Linked DNA regions of Homo sapiens. The protein of the gene in region 2 purifies or fractionates together with the protein of the main gene of each other region. This does not show direct contact. Each region holds a gene or a part of one and is shown on either strand. Other genes may lie near its edges.

The links. Proteins that work in one complex are often made in the same cells at the same time.
Region 1: the proteins of CORO1C (region 2) and VSIG10 fractionate together in Homo sapiens (co-fractionation; one large-scale study listed by BioGRID). This does not show direct contact.
Region 3: the proteins of CORO1C (region 2) and GTPBP1 purify together in Homo sapiens (affinity purification with mass spectrometry; 2 studies listed by BioGRID and IntAct, with this or other methods). This does not show direct contact.
Region 4: the proteins of CORO1C (region 2) and PTPRB purify together in Homo sapiens (pull-down; one large-scale study listed by IntAct). This does not show direct contact.

Annotation. Positions count from the first base shown.
Region 1 is NC_000012.12:118,097,426-118,101,011, reverse strand, and holds part of VSIG10 (V-set and immunoglobulin domain-containing protein 10 precursor), read left to right. Parts: intron 1-3,586.
Region 2 is NC_000012.12:108,661,968-108,665,553, forward strand, and holds part of CORO1C (coronin-1C), read right to left. Parts: intron 192-3,586; coding exon 62-191; intron 1-61. UniProt on the Homo sapiens protein: Plays a role in directed cell migration by regulating the activation and subcellular location of RAC1. Increases the presence of activated RAC1 at the leading edge of migrating cells.
Region 3 is NC_000022.11:38,722,944-38,726,529, forward strand, and holds part of GTPBP1 (GTP-binding protein 1), read left to right. Parts: exon of another isoform or gene 1-579; intron 580-1,353; coding exon 1,354-1,468; intron 1,469-3,062; coding exon 3,063-3,207; intron 3,208-3,314; coding exon 3,315-3,497; intron 3,498-3,586. UniProt on the Homo sapiens protein: Promotes degradation of target mRNA species. Plays a role in the regulation of circadian mRNA stability. Binds GTP and has GTPase activity.
Region 4 is NC_000012.12:70,630,844-70,634,429, reverse strand, and holds part of PTPRB (receptor-type tyrosine-protein phosphatase beta), read left to right. Parts: intron 1-3,586. UniProt on the Homo sapiens protein: Plays an important role in blood vessel remodeling and angiogenesis. Not necessary for the initial formation of blood vessels, but is essential for their maintenance and remodeling. Can induce dephosphorylation of TEK/TIE2, CDH5/VE-cadherin and KDR/VEGFR-2.

The DNA of each region.
Region 1 (3,586 bases), 9.4 Mb from region 2:
CACGGCTTTTTTCCAAGCCACTGTTCCTTTATTTCTTTGCCAAGGAGTTAGGCAAGGGGCAGGTCTGCAGGTTGCATGAACACATGTTGCATCTGTAACTCTGAAGTTCATCTTCCTTTCCATTGTGGCGGTTGCCACTGGATAATTTGGGTTCCCAATCCTAATAATTTAAAAATAATTCTTGGCTGGGTGCGGTGGCTCCCGCCTGTAATCCCAGCACTTTTGGAGGCCGAAGTGGGCAGATCACCTGAGGTCAGGAGTTCAAGACCAGCCTGGCCAACACAGTGAAACCCTGTCTCTACAAAAATACAAAAACTTAGCGGGGCATGATGGCGGGTGCCTGTAATCCCAGCTACTCAGAAGACTGAGGCGGGAGAATTGCTTGAACCCAAAGGCAGAGGTTGCAGTGAGCCGAAATTACGCCTTGCACTCCAGCCTAGGCAACAGAGCGAGACTTCATCTCAAAAAAAAAGTAAATAAATAAATAAAAAGAATTCTTATCTGCTTTTTTTTTTGAGACAGAGTCTTGCTCTGTTACCCAGGCTGGAATGCAATGGTGCGATCTTGGCTCACTGCAACCTCCGCCTCCCAGGTACAAGGGATTCTCCTGCCTCAGCCTCCCGAGTAGGTGGGATTACAGGTGTGCGCCACCACGCCCGGCTAACTTTTTGTATTTTTAGTAGAAACGGGGTTTCACCGTGTTAGCCAGGCTGGTCCCGAGCTCTTGATCTTGCCCACCTTGGCCTCCCAAAGTGCTGGGGTTACAGGCAGGAGCCACCACGCCCGGCCATTCAGCTAATTTTTAGTAGAGATGAGGTTTCACCATGTTGGCCAGGCTGGTCTCCAACTCCTGACCTCAAGTGATCCACCTGCCTCGGCCTCCCAAAATGCTGGGATTACAGGCGTGAGCCACCGCCCCCGGCCCTCACCTGCTTTTTAAAGTGATTGCTCAGAAGCATTTCTTGCTGTTTTGGAATCTCTGTCATTAGATGGCATTCTCCACCTTTCAGCAAGTGGCTTAGTTTTTAAAATTTGGTGTTTTGTTTGTTTGTTCGTTTGTTTTCATCCTGACTTGGCTGAAAAGTCTTGGGAATGGTGTGGCCAAAATGGTGAGAGAATCAGAACTTCCTGGGGCTCCAGGCTGGCTTCAGATCTTTAAAAGGGAGCCCCTTCTAACCAGACAAGAGGCCAAATACAGATAATGATTACTCTTTCACTTAAATGGGAAGGATTGCCAGGGGCAAGTGGCAGTTTATTTTTTCTATAACAGCTTTATTCAGATATAATTTACATGCCACAAAATTCACCCTTTTTAAGTGTACCACCCAGGGGATTTTAGTGTAGTCCAGGGTTATACAGCCATCACCACTAATTCATCATTTTTATCACCCCAACAGGTTCTGCCCATCTTCCTATTCCTGCAGCCTCTTTGTATTGGGTCTTGATTGTGGAGGGGGCTGGACAATTGTGAAACTTCTCAGCAAAATGGGTTGCATTTGCTTCTTGTTACCTAGTGACAGTCTAATGCCCGTTAGCACCTGTCGGTCTTTTTTTATGAGTCAGGGTTGGCTGGGCGTGGCAGCTCACGCCTGTAATCCCACCACTTTGCGAGCCCGAGGTGGGTCTGAGTGGAATGCTTGAGTCCAGGAGTTCAAAGACCAGCCTGGGCAACATAGTGAGACCCCCCACCCCAACCCGCCGCCCCTCCACCATCTCTAAAAAAGAAAAAAACAGTTTTTTACCTTAAACAAACAAAAAGAGAGACAGGGTATCTCTGCTGCCCAGGCTGGAGTGCAGTGTCACAATTGTGGCTCACTGCAGCTTCAGTCTCCTGGATTCAAGTGATCCGCCCACCTCAGCCTCCCAAAGCCCTGGGATTACAGGCCTGAGCAGGCACACTCACACCCGGACACCTGTCAGTCTTGAATGGGCGTCAGAATCACCTGGAGGGCTCGCTAACACACAGATGCTGGGCCAGGTATAATGAATCATTCCTGTAATCCCAGCACTTTGGGAGGCTGAGGTGGGAGGATCACTTGAAGTCAGGAGTTCAAGACTGTCCAGGACATCAGAGTGAGACCCCCCCCAACCCCCATCTCTTAAAAAAAAAGTTAAATAATTGCTGATTTGTTAAAAATAAATAAATAAAACACAAAGGGCTGCTGCTCTCCCGCAGTTTCTGATCTAGGTGTTTTGGGGTGAGGCTTGATAATTTATATTTCTAACATGCTGCGGCTGCCGATCTGGGCTTTGGAACATGCTCCGTTTGCCTGGGAACCCATCCTCACCTTTTCTTGGCTGATTCCTACTTGTCCATCAGATCTCAGTTTGGCTTCCTGGGGGAAGTGTTTCCTGACATTTGCCCTAGTTGGACTTAGGAGCCCTTTCTCTGAGGCCTTATCTTGGTGTTTATCACACTGCATTGTACTTGCCAGTTTATTGTCTCTTTTCTTCACTAGACTGTGAACTCTTGGAGGTTTCTGTGTGTTGTGTCCACAGTGGGATTCCCAGTGCTTTGTCCAGAGTGGGCACACAGTCCCTACTGCCAGCCCATTCTTCCATGGGGCTTCTGAGAGAACTTGAACTCTAGGGCCATTTGAGATGGAGAGAGATGGAGAGGCAGAGAGAGAGGGAGAGGCGGAGAGAGAGGGAGAGGCGGAGAGAGAGGGAGAGGCGGAGAGAGAGGGAGAGGCGGAGAGAGAGGGAGAGGCGGAGAGAGAGGGAGAGGCGGAGAGAGAGGGAGAGGCGGAGAGAGAGGGAGAGGCGGAGAGAGAGGGAGAGGCAGAGAGAGCAGTGGGACAGTGGAAACAAAGCCAAAGCCCTCTTCTTTCTACCCCTTCTGGATTTCTAGGCAAATAAAGCCACTTGGGTTCTGTATCAATTATTGATCGCCACAGTAATGCTGTATAAGAAACAACCCCAAAATGACAGTAGTGCTTATTACCCACAGGCTGGGGTGGTTGGTTAGGGGGCTCTGCTGATCTGCCTGGGGATCGATGACTAGCTGAAGGCTGATCTAGAATGGGCCAGGCTGGAGCCACTGAGACAACTTGGGTCTGTACCATGTAGTTTGTTTATTTATTTATTTGAGACAGAGTTTCACTCTTGTCACCCAGGCTGGAGTACAGTGGTACAATATCGGCTCACTGCAACCTCCGCCTCCCGGGTTCAAGTGATTCCCCTGCCTCAGCCTCCCGAGTAGCTGGGATTACAGGTACCTGCCACCATGCCCAGCTAAGTTTTTGTATTTTTAGTAGAGACGGGGTTTCACCATGTTGGCCAGGCTAGTCTCGAACTCCTGAGCTCAGGTGATCCACCGCCTCAGCCTCCCAAAGTGCTGGGATTACAGGCGTGGAGCCCGGCCTTTTGTTTGTTTGTTTGTTTGTTTCTTGTTTTTGAGACAGAGTCTTGCCCCGTCACCCAGGCTGCAGTGCAGTGGCACAATCTTGGCTCACTGCAACCTCTACCTCCTGGGTTCAAGTGATTCTCGTGCCTCAGCCTCCTGAGTAGCTGGGACTACAGGTGTGCGCCACCACGCCTGGCTAATTTTTGCATTTTTAGCAGAGACGGGGTTTCACCATGTTGG
Region 2 (3,586 bases):
CCCCACTCAGAGAGCCACAAGAGTGGAAGACAAGGGGAGGACCGCTGAGCTCAGCTCCCACCTGCACTAAGAAGCACATTGCGGGCCGTTGGATGCCAAGCCACGATGCCGACTCTCTTTGAGTGGCCTTCCAAAATCACCACAGGTTCAGTCAGGGAAAGGGTGAGTCCATTTTCTGGGATCTGCCATACCTGTTGGACAAGGAAGAAAGATGATCCACATGAAAGCTATTGCCTTTCATTATCACATTTACAGTGACCATCCACTATAAAGATTTGCTCTATGTAAACAGAACATAGAGTGATATCTGGATGAAAGGCAGAATGTTGTGAAATGACCGTGTTAGGCGGTTTTTTTTTTGTTTGTTTTTTTGTTTTTTGTTTTTCGTTTTTGAGACGGAGTCTCACACTGTTACCCAAACTGGAGTGCAGTGGCGCGATCTCGGCTCACTGCAACCTCCATCTCCCAGGTTGAAGCAATTCTCCTGCCTCAGACTCCCAAGTATCGGCTGTTTTTAAAATGTAATATGTTATCGGAGATCAGGATACCAACAAGGACTACAAAACATTTCCTCTCAGCTTTTATTTAATATTATTTGGGATTTTATTCTAAATTCCTTGTTAAGTTCAAAACTCTCCAGTTAGAAGCATGCAAAAAATTGAAAGAAAACTACAAAATGATTGAAACACTCAAGAAAAGGAATGGGAATGAAGACACTTAGCTAAGTCTGTGGTTCTTGATGGGATGACATAGTTTTTAAAACATATTTTCTATAATTTTACACTTGGAAAACAAAAATACACTTAATATTTTTATAACATGTATTATAGAAAATATTACAAAAGAAAAAAATGAATTAGACCTCATCAAAATTAAAAGCTTTTGTGCTTCAAAGGACACTATGAAGAAAGTGAAAAAACAACCTGCAGAATGGGAGAAAATAACTTACAAATCATACATTTGATAAGAGACCCATAGCCTGAATATAGAAAGAACTCTTAGAATTCAACCAAAGGACAAATAACCCAATTGAAAAATAGGCCAGTCATCTAAATAGACATTTCAAGGAAGACATATAAATGGCGAAAAAGCACATGAAAAGATGTTTGGCATTATTAGTAATTACAGAAATGCAAATCAAAACCACAAGCTCTCTCTTCATGCCCATTAGGATGGCTAGAATCAAAAAGACAGATAACAAGTGTTCACAAGCATGTGAAAAAATCAGAGCCTGCACACATGGCTGGTGAAAATGTAAAATGGTATAGCCACCATTTGGTGGCAGACCTTGGAAAACAGCCTGGCAGTTCCTTAAATGATTAAACAGAGTTATCATATGATCCGGTAATTCCACTCCTAGGGATATACCCAAGAGGATGGAAACTATGTGTCTATGCAAAAACTTGTACAAGAATGTTCATAGAAGCATTATTTGTAATAGCCCAAAGGTGGAAACAACCCAAATATCCATCTATCGATAAATGGCTGAACAAAATGCGACATATTCATACACTGGAATATTATTTGGCCATAAAAAAGAATGAAGTACTGATACATGCTACAACATGAGCAAACTCTAAAAACATTATGCAAAGTGAAAGAAGCCAGACATAGAAGACCGCATATTGCAGGATTCCATGTATGTGAAATGTCCAGAATAGGCAAATCCGTAAAGACAGAAAGTAGAATAGTGGTTGCTTAGTGTTGGGGAGAGTGGAGGGAGGCAGGTGGAGGGGTGATAGCTAAAGGATTTGGGTTTCTATATGAGGTGATGAAAATTTTCTATAATTGTCTGTGGTGATGGTTGTGAATATTCTAAAACTCAGTGAATTGTACATTTTAAATGAGTGAATTCTATGTGAATTATATCTCAATAAAACTTGTTATTTAAGAAAATCCTCTTGACTAGTGAAGACATGCAGAAGACTCACCACATCTTAATTGGGGACATGCCTGGGCACAGGGGGAGAAAGGGACAGGGAAAGTATGAGTGGAAGGAATGAAAGACTTTATGTTTAACAATGAACAACAAAGGTTTCAAAAGGTTAAGAAACAAACAACCTCTAAGAAAAGGGCTGAGTTACAGGTAAGCTGAGTAGCATCAAGAACCCTACCGAAGACCAGATATTAAATAATATTTAAGTTTATGAAAAAGCTAAAGTTTAAAATCATTATCTTCTACATGAAGATTAAAACAAGTAAATTTACCATCAGAAAATGATTTTGAGGAACTAGCTCATGAAAAATTTAAGAACTTGTCAATGAAAAATCATGTTCAACACTAGAACACGTGAGAAAAAGAATTTTCCTTTGTGGGAACTTTAAAGAAGGAGACAAACAATTGTCTGTTTTCAATTGCTTAGTGGAAGGCAGAGATCTAGACTGGATGAGTGTTTAGGGTTCAGCTCAGTTCTACTGTCCTGCAAAAAATGAGAACAAAAAGTTTGCCATTCTGAAGAGTGGGAAAAAGTCATGAGTTGAGTGATTTGTTCATTTTTACAGCTAAATTCTGCCCAGGCTAAATATAACCCCTTATGCAAATCATAACAAAAATAAACCTGCATTTTGAGGGCCCAAGCTTAGAACATCACCTAATTTCCCCAGAGCCAAATTTTAAGCAAGGCAGGTGTGAACAAGCATAGAAGGAAAAGGAAGACCTACCCTGCCCTCTCCCTCCCTCTGCGGAAGAGACCTTGACCCAGGCCTCTTTCCCCTGCGGAGAACATGGGCATCTGCTCTCCTCCATTACTGCATGTTAGCTTTCATCCTGACATGCACTATTTTTATTCAAGAATTTATGATTAGTGAAACAACTCCACATTGAACTTGACTATCTGAATATAAAGCAGGACTGACATTTTGAACAGAACAAACAGAAAACAGTGACTACTAATTTGATCAAAGCATGAAGTCGACAGAAAAACAATTATGAAATGGGACTTCAGTGACTCAACAGGAAAAGCATTTTGCAAGATGCACTGTGACCCCACTTAGAACTGACAGAGTGGTAATACCACCTTCAATCTCCAGATGGCACCCCAACCATGGCCTGCTGGGTTTCCTTGCAAGGACTGAAAACGCCTCTGTGTCTCACTCTGAGCACAGCTAGTGCATTTTCCAAATCACTAATGAGACGTGGAGTGATGGGAGACTTTGTTTATAATCAGCATTTCCAACCTTAAAATATGAGGGCAGAAGCAGAGCTCATAATGGGGACTTAACCTTTTCCTTTCTCTAGCTTCTCCCCATCATCTTTTCCTGGATTAAAAGAAAATTTTAATGATGAAGCAACATTTATTAATTTTTAAAATAAGGAAACTCTGTGTGTTCCTTCTTTACCTCACCTCCAGCTGGTTTAACGGTTCCCTCAGCTGGGTTTATTCACATAAGACAAGCACCTAAGCCATTTTACTACCTTGGTTAACTCTTTCTTGTAACACATTTATTGAGTTACAATAAATTGTATTGTAACCCATCTAGTACTGGGTAACTAAATACAGGCCCTGCTCTTGAGAAGTTGATGGTCTAACAGAAAGCAGAGACTTCTATCAGACTGAAAATCAAAGACAACAAATCCAAGTGGTGT
Region 3 (3,586 bases), on a different chromosome or scaffold from region 2:
CAGTTATGAAGAGACCTCTTAGTGCAAGACCAGAACCTTCTAACAGCACACCGTAGTCTCAGGAAGTTTGCTCAAATCTGACAAGAGTGGGATGTTCATGTGGTCCAAACCACCATTATTTCTTGGTGTATTTATCCAGGCAAGATGACTAAAGTGGGAATCCACTGAGACCACAACTTCACAGTTCACATCATGAAATTCCTTAGCTTTGTCACTAAAAGCAACAGTTTCTGTAGGACCACGAAGGTGAAATCCAAAGGATAGAAGAAAAGCACCAAATTATTTCCCCTTAAAGTCATCAAGGCTTAGGTCTTTGAACTCTCCATTGACAATGGCTGTACCCTTAAAATAGGGTGCATGCTGGGCGACAGCAGGTGCATGGTATGAGGAGCTGGTGCTAAAGAATTTTGCTTGACTGGAACCAGACCATAATATGTTTGTCAAGCTCGTTCTTCCAGAAGCAGCAAGCTTGAGGGCTGCAGTGGCAGAAATGCCCCAAGGAATGGCACTCACATGTCGGGCAGCCGATGCTCAGAGTAGCCTTCCCACAGCAGCTACCATCTTCAGTGCACGCGGGCGAAACTTCCTTTGTCTTGTACTTAGGTCTTGGCCTGAATTTCCATCAGCCCAGAATCTTCTGCTACTTCCTCCCCTATTTAGTTCTTGGTCTGAACACAGCCTAGAATTATCCTCTTCCTTGTTCCTTCTGGTTCCAAATGCAGAAATCTTGAGATCCTGAATCTGGCACCTCTTTTCAGGTGACCCCAGGCAGAAGGAGTTGGGCTCTACCAGCTAAGCTGGATATATACGGGGAAGTTTGGACAGAGGGTCTGATTACCTTTTGCCACCAAAGCTTTGACACAGGGTTGCAGGACTAAGCCTTCATGCCTTTCTCCCTCACTGCTAAAGATTGTAGAAAAGTATCCCTTTGGGAAGCCTCATAATAAGGGTCTCTGTAGACTTCTAAATGTCTAAGAGATCCTTTTTGTTGGATGAGATTTTTTTCCAGGAAGTAGTGCATTCTGAGAACTGAAGTGTGAAGTGAATTGTTTTTCTTGGGGACCCTCAAGTCACATGCTTACAGGAGGCAGGTCGTCTAGACACAAGAGAAATCTGCCAGGTTTCAGACGCAGAACCCTAGAAAAGAGGCCCCATCTGTGCTTTTCTTACTCTAGCAGCACCCAAAGTTTTGATCCTCCTTTTTGCTTCTCCAGGCATTGTGGCATTTAACACTGGTCCATCTATCTGTCTGTCTCCTGCTTGCATCAGTAATGAGTGGACCCATCTTGCTCTTAAAGCCTGGCCAAAGAGAAGGCTGTGTCCCCCTAATTCTGTTCCATTGCACCCTTTAAGAAACCCTGAAGCTGTTACAGCGCCTGCTGAAGTCACCAGGCTGCCGGAAGATCCCCGTGCTGGTGCAGAGCAAAGATGATGTGATTGTCACAGCCTCCAACTTCAGCTCTGAAAGGTAACGCGTGGGGAGCGCACACTTCAGACAGGCACCCTTGCAGGCAGGACCACAGTGAGTGATGGGCCTGGAATGGCTGTCAGTTTGGGCATAAGGTCTCATGAAAACACCACATCAACACCTCTCCCTATTCAGAGATCGGAGGAAATAGAAGCTTCCAATCTTAGCGCAGGGTCTCCCAAGCCAGCATTGTTGCCCAGGGGTAATATCACGTAACCCAGATTGTGAGGTGCTGGCATTCCTGGGGTTGGCATCCCGGCTGAGACTTCAGTGTCCTTATCTGTGAAATGGGAATAACATTCCCTTCCCTGTAGGGCTCCCGTGAATGTTGGAAATGAAGTATGTAGAGCACTTAATGCCCTGCCTGGCTGATGGATGGTAAATACACAGCCATTTTTGTAACTCAGTTTTTTATACTGTTGTTCCTCAAAAGCTCACTAATCAGATCAGTTTTGGCATTTACTCATTAATGTATTCTTTCATTCCATAAATATTTATTGGATGTTTGTTCTGCGAGACTCTTCATCTAGATGTTGAGGATTCAGAGTTGAATTGAACACAATCCTTGTCCTCAAGGTGTTCAGCTCCTTGGTGAGAGATGCTCTCTCGATAATGGTGAACTCTACTAACTCTGCCTGTTTGCCCAGAGCTTGGTCTATAGCGCCAGGCCCAGAGCAGCCTGGCTTTTTGCCTATGCCTCTGCCCTGATGTGATCTTCAGTACCATCAGTTAGCCTGCAGAGGGGGCACATTTCAGACAGCCCCATTTGAGCTTGTTGATATTCTTGAGTGCCTATTCTGTGCAGGCACTATTCTAGGAGCTGTGGGGAATGTGTAATTCGTGATCTCAAGGATTTTAATTCAGTCACCCTGAATAGGAGCAATAGAGGCCATTTACAGGACTCTGATGAAAAATCAGATGCAGTCATGTGTAATAGAGAAAAAGCTCTCCAGGAACTCAGAGGAGTCAAGAGTGTCCACCCAGGAAGGATTTCATGGAAGAAGTGGTATTTGAGATGAGCTCTGAAGGGTGAGAGGGCCTGGTAGTTGCATAAAAGGGAAAGAATTCAGGAAGGAAGGTCAGAGTGAGCAAATCCACAAGGGCAGAAAAGTTCCAAAGTTTTAGGAGAAGGGAGAGTTCTCTGGTGTGGCTGGAATATAGGAATTTGCGAGAAGTGAATCTGCAGAGATGGCTACAAGCCCAAGCCAAAGGGCTGTGAGTGTTGGGAGAGGGATTTGGGGTATCTTCTCTGTGGTGGAAAGGCGGTTAAGGATTTTAAGCAAGCATGCGTGTGTTTTAGGAAGAAGCAGTCATGAGGTTCCAAACTAGGGCAGTGGTGGAGGACAGAGAGGAGAGGACAGGTGTCAGAGACAGAACTGAGTGAGAGAAGAAGGCCTCAGAGTAGGGCTGGCCAGGAGCTTGCTAGGTCAGGGCAAAGAGGTCAAGCCCTTGGAGGCAGGTGAGGGAGAGGTGGAGTCATGAATAGTGGCATCTGCTCCTCGAGCCCTGTTGCTGCCCCTGGTCTGTGTCAGGGCAGGACCTGGTCTCCTGAGTGCCTCTCTCCTTTTTTCCTTCCTCTTCTCCCTCTGCTTAGGATGTGCCCGATATTCCAGATCTCCAACGTTACAGGCGAGAACCTAGATCTGCTGAAGATGTTCCTCAACCTCCTCTCCCCCCGCACCAGCTACAGGGAGGAGGAGCCTGCTGAGTTTCAGATTGATGACACCTACTCCGTCCCGGTAAGTGGCTCTGGGCGGGTAGCTGGGTGGGCACTTCCTACAGTGGCATCAGGGGGTGGGTCTGTGCTGGGGATGCACTTATGAGGCCAGGGTCTTCTCCTTGGCAGGGTGTGGGGACAGTGGTTTCGGGGACAACACTGAGAGGCCTGATCAAGCTGAATGACACGCTGCTGCTGGGCCCAGACCCCTTGGGTAACTTCCTGTCCATTGCTGTCAAATCCATCCATCGCAAGCGCATGCCTGTCAAGGAGGTGCGGGGTGGCCAGACAGCATCCTTTGCGCTGAAGAAGGTGAGTAGCGATGATACTGAACGCTCCCCTCAGACTCCATCATGCTAGGCTCTTGGCCAGATGCCCTGCTCACCCACTCTAGTCCTCAT
Region 4 (3,586 bases), about 38 Mb from region 2:
ATTCTTTCCCACCATTTTTTCCTCTACAACCACCTCCAAGATTCTGTTTCAGGAAATCTGGATTTGTGCATAATACTTGATATTTATTAATCACCAGAAAATTTTGATCCATAATCCAATATGGAGATCAGCATCCACTGTATTGTTAAGTCTTTTCCTTAGGTGTTGATTTGTGAGGCTTATATTAGTCTTTCCACCATGGTAATCTTTGGACAATTTTTTCTCACTCATTCATTCTGTAAGTTAAAACAAGCATTTAACTAGATGCCATTTGAATGTGTTATGCTTTTCTACAATAAGTGGTATGCTTTGCTACAATAAAAGTTGAGAGTTATAGTTTCTGTTCTTATATCATTTCTGCCTATGAGAAAAAAACCTACTCAAAAATTCAACTTTATCAGAAAATATTCAGCATATAGCACCAATTTGTACAATACCTTTCCTGTGGTTCATCTATCAAGGCCTCTCCTAAATAATATAGAAACATTATAACTGTTCCATTTTTACTGTTTTACACAAGAAGTGAGATTCATCCCCAAACCCCAATCAAACCTTATTTAACATAAGATTACTTAGTTGGAACTTTAAAAAAAAGTAGATATGGACTCAGTGGTGAGTTATTCAAGATAAAAGATAATTCATAGAAAAACTACCTCCTATGACCCTCATACAAATATGTCTAGTAATAGACTTCGAAAATAAGGTAACTAGAATAAGCCATTTGCAATTAACCACTGAACAATGCTATATTCAAAAAATGCCTGATAATATGTGTTGGGGAAAGAAATTAATTTCTAGAAAAAGCAGAAGTTAAAATTTGCACAATTGTGGTACAAAAACACCCTTATATTTGAGTACACATAAGTATAACACATACTTTTGCTTTAACACAATTATAAGCTAACAGATATATTTTTCTGCTCCATCTTAAATATGCCATTGTGGGGTTTTTTCTTTTTGTTTTTGTTTTTTCTTTGGTTTTTGTTTTTAGAAACAAAGTCTTGCTCTGTTGCCCAGGCAGGAGAGCCATGGTGTGATCATAGCTCAATGTAGCCTCCAACTCCTGGGCTCAAGTGATCCTCCCACCTCAGCCTCCCAAAGTACTGGGATTACAGGCATGAATCACCATGCCCAGCCCTGATAAAAGTTTAAGAATAATACTTGTAGACCTATATCATGAGAGCTCACTGACTTGCTAGAGTAGCTACTGTGAAAAATTAACCGAAATGCATTCATATGTTTGCAATGAGTGATTTCAAATCATTGTTTAAGTTGGTAACTAAGTATTATAATCTACAGCAGCACAAATACATGTGTTGTTCATCTATGGGATGTGAATTTTTTTGTGTGTTCTTCCATGAAAGAAAGCAGACCTATGAAGGTAAAAATCTAAGCCACATGTTTCATATTTGTTTCATAAAAGACACATTAATGATTGTATTCAAGTTTCCAGGTAATATTTATTTAACACCTACTATGTGCCAGAGCTTGTGCTAGCACTCAGGTACCCTGTGCTAGTACTAAGGTGCCCTCCACAAGTGATTTTTGACCCAAGCTGCATATTAGACTCACATGGCAGCTTTTAACTAATACTAGAGTATAAAACCTGAGCTTTATCCTCTAAGCTGACTAAATGAGGTATTGTATTTTTAAAGTACTTCCTAGGTGATTCTGATGTGCAGCCAAGGTTGCAAATCATTAAATACATCTTATTCCTTAAAGTAATGGGGAAATCAGATAAGTAAATAAATAGGTAATTACAATAGAATGTAGAGAGAAGAAAGTACTTTCCTTTCCAATATATGTCCTTGCCAGTATGTCACATTAAGCACTCATTCCTTTTTTTTTTTTAATTATACTTTAAGTTCTAGGGTGCATGTGCACAATGTGCAGGTTTGTTACATAGGTATACGTGTGCCATGTTGGTTTGCTGCACTCATCAACTCGTCATTTACACTAGGCATTTCTCCCAGTGCTATCCTTCCCCCAGTCCCCCACCCCCCGACAGGACCCAGTGTGTGATGTCTCCTGCCCTGTGTCCAAGTGTTCTCGTTGTTCAATTTCCACCTATGAGTGGTACACGCGGTGTTTGGTTTTCTGTCCTTGTGATAGTTTGCTGAGAATGATGGTTTCCAGCTTCATCCATGTCCCTGCAAATGACATGAACTCATCATTTTTTATGGCTGCAATAGTATTCCATGGTGTATATGTGCCACATTTTCTTAATCTAGTCTACCATTGATGGACATTTGGGTTGGTTCCAAGTCTTTGCTATTGTGAATAGTGCCACAATAAATATACACGTGCATGTGTCTTTATAGTAGCTTGATTTATAATCCTTTGAGTATATACCCAGTAATGCAATCACTGGGTCAAATGGTATTTCTAGTTCTAGATCCTTGAAGAATCACCACACTGTCTTCCACAGTGGTTGAACTAGTTTACACTCCTACCAACAGTGTAAGTGTTCCAATTTCTCCACATCCTCTCCAGCATCTGTTGTTTCCTGACTTTTTAATGATTGCCATTCTAACTGGCAAGAGATGGTATCTCATTGTGGTTTTGATTTGCATTTCTCTGATGACCAGTGATGATAAGCATTTTTTCATGTGTCTGTTGGCTGCATAAATGTCTTCTTTTTAGAAGTGTCTGTTCATATCCTTTGCCCACTTTTTGATGGGGTTGTTTGTTTTTTTCTTGTAAATTTGTTTAAGTTCTTTGTAGATTCTGGATATTAGCCCTTTGTCATATGGGTAGATTGCAAAAATTTTCTCCCATTCTGTAGGTTGCCTGTTCACTCTGATGGTAGTTTCTTCTGCTGTGCAGAAGCTCTTTAGTTTAATTAGATCCCATTTGTCTATTTTGGCTTTTGTTGCCATTGCTTTTGGTGTTTTAGTCATGAGGTGTTTGCCCATGCCTATGTCCTGAATGGTATTGCCTAGGTTTTCTTCTAGGGTTTTTATGGTTTTAGGTCTAACATTTAAGTCTTTAATCCATCTTGAATTGATTTTTGTATAAGGTGTAAGGAAGGGATCCAGTTTCAGCTTTCTACATATGGCTAGCCAGTTTTCCCAGCTCCATTTATTAAATAGGGAATCCTTTCCCCATTGCTTGTTTTTGTCAGGTTTGTCAAAGATCAGATGGTTGTAGATGTGCGGTATTATTTCTGAGGGCTCTGTTCGGTTCCATTGGTCTATATCTCTGTTTTGGTACCAGTACCATGCTGTTTTGGTTACTGTAGCCTTGTAGTATGGTTTGAAGTCAGGTAGTGTGATGCCTCCAGCTTTGTTCTTTTTGCTTAGGATTGTCTTGGCTATGTGGGCTCTTTTTTGGTTCCATATGAACTTTAAAGTAGTTTTTTCCAATTCTGTGAAGAAAGTCATTGGTAGCTTGATGGGAATGGCATTGAATCTATAAATTACCTTGGGCAGTATGGCCATTTTCACGATATTGATTCTTCCTATCCATGAGCATGGAATGTTCTTCCATGTGTTTGTGTCCTCTTTTATTTCGTTGAGCAGTGGTTTGTAGTTCTCCTTGAAGAGGTCCTTCACATCCCTTGTAAGTTGGATTCCTAGGTATTTTA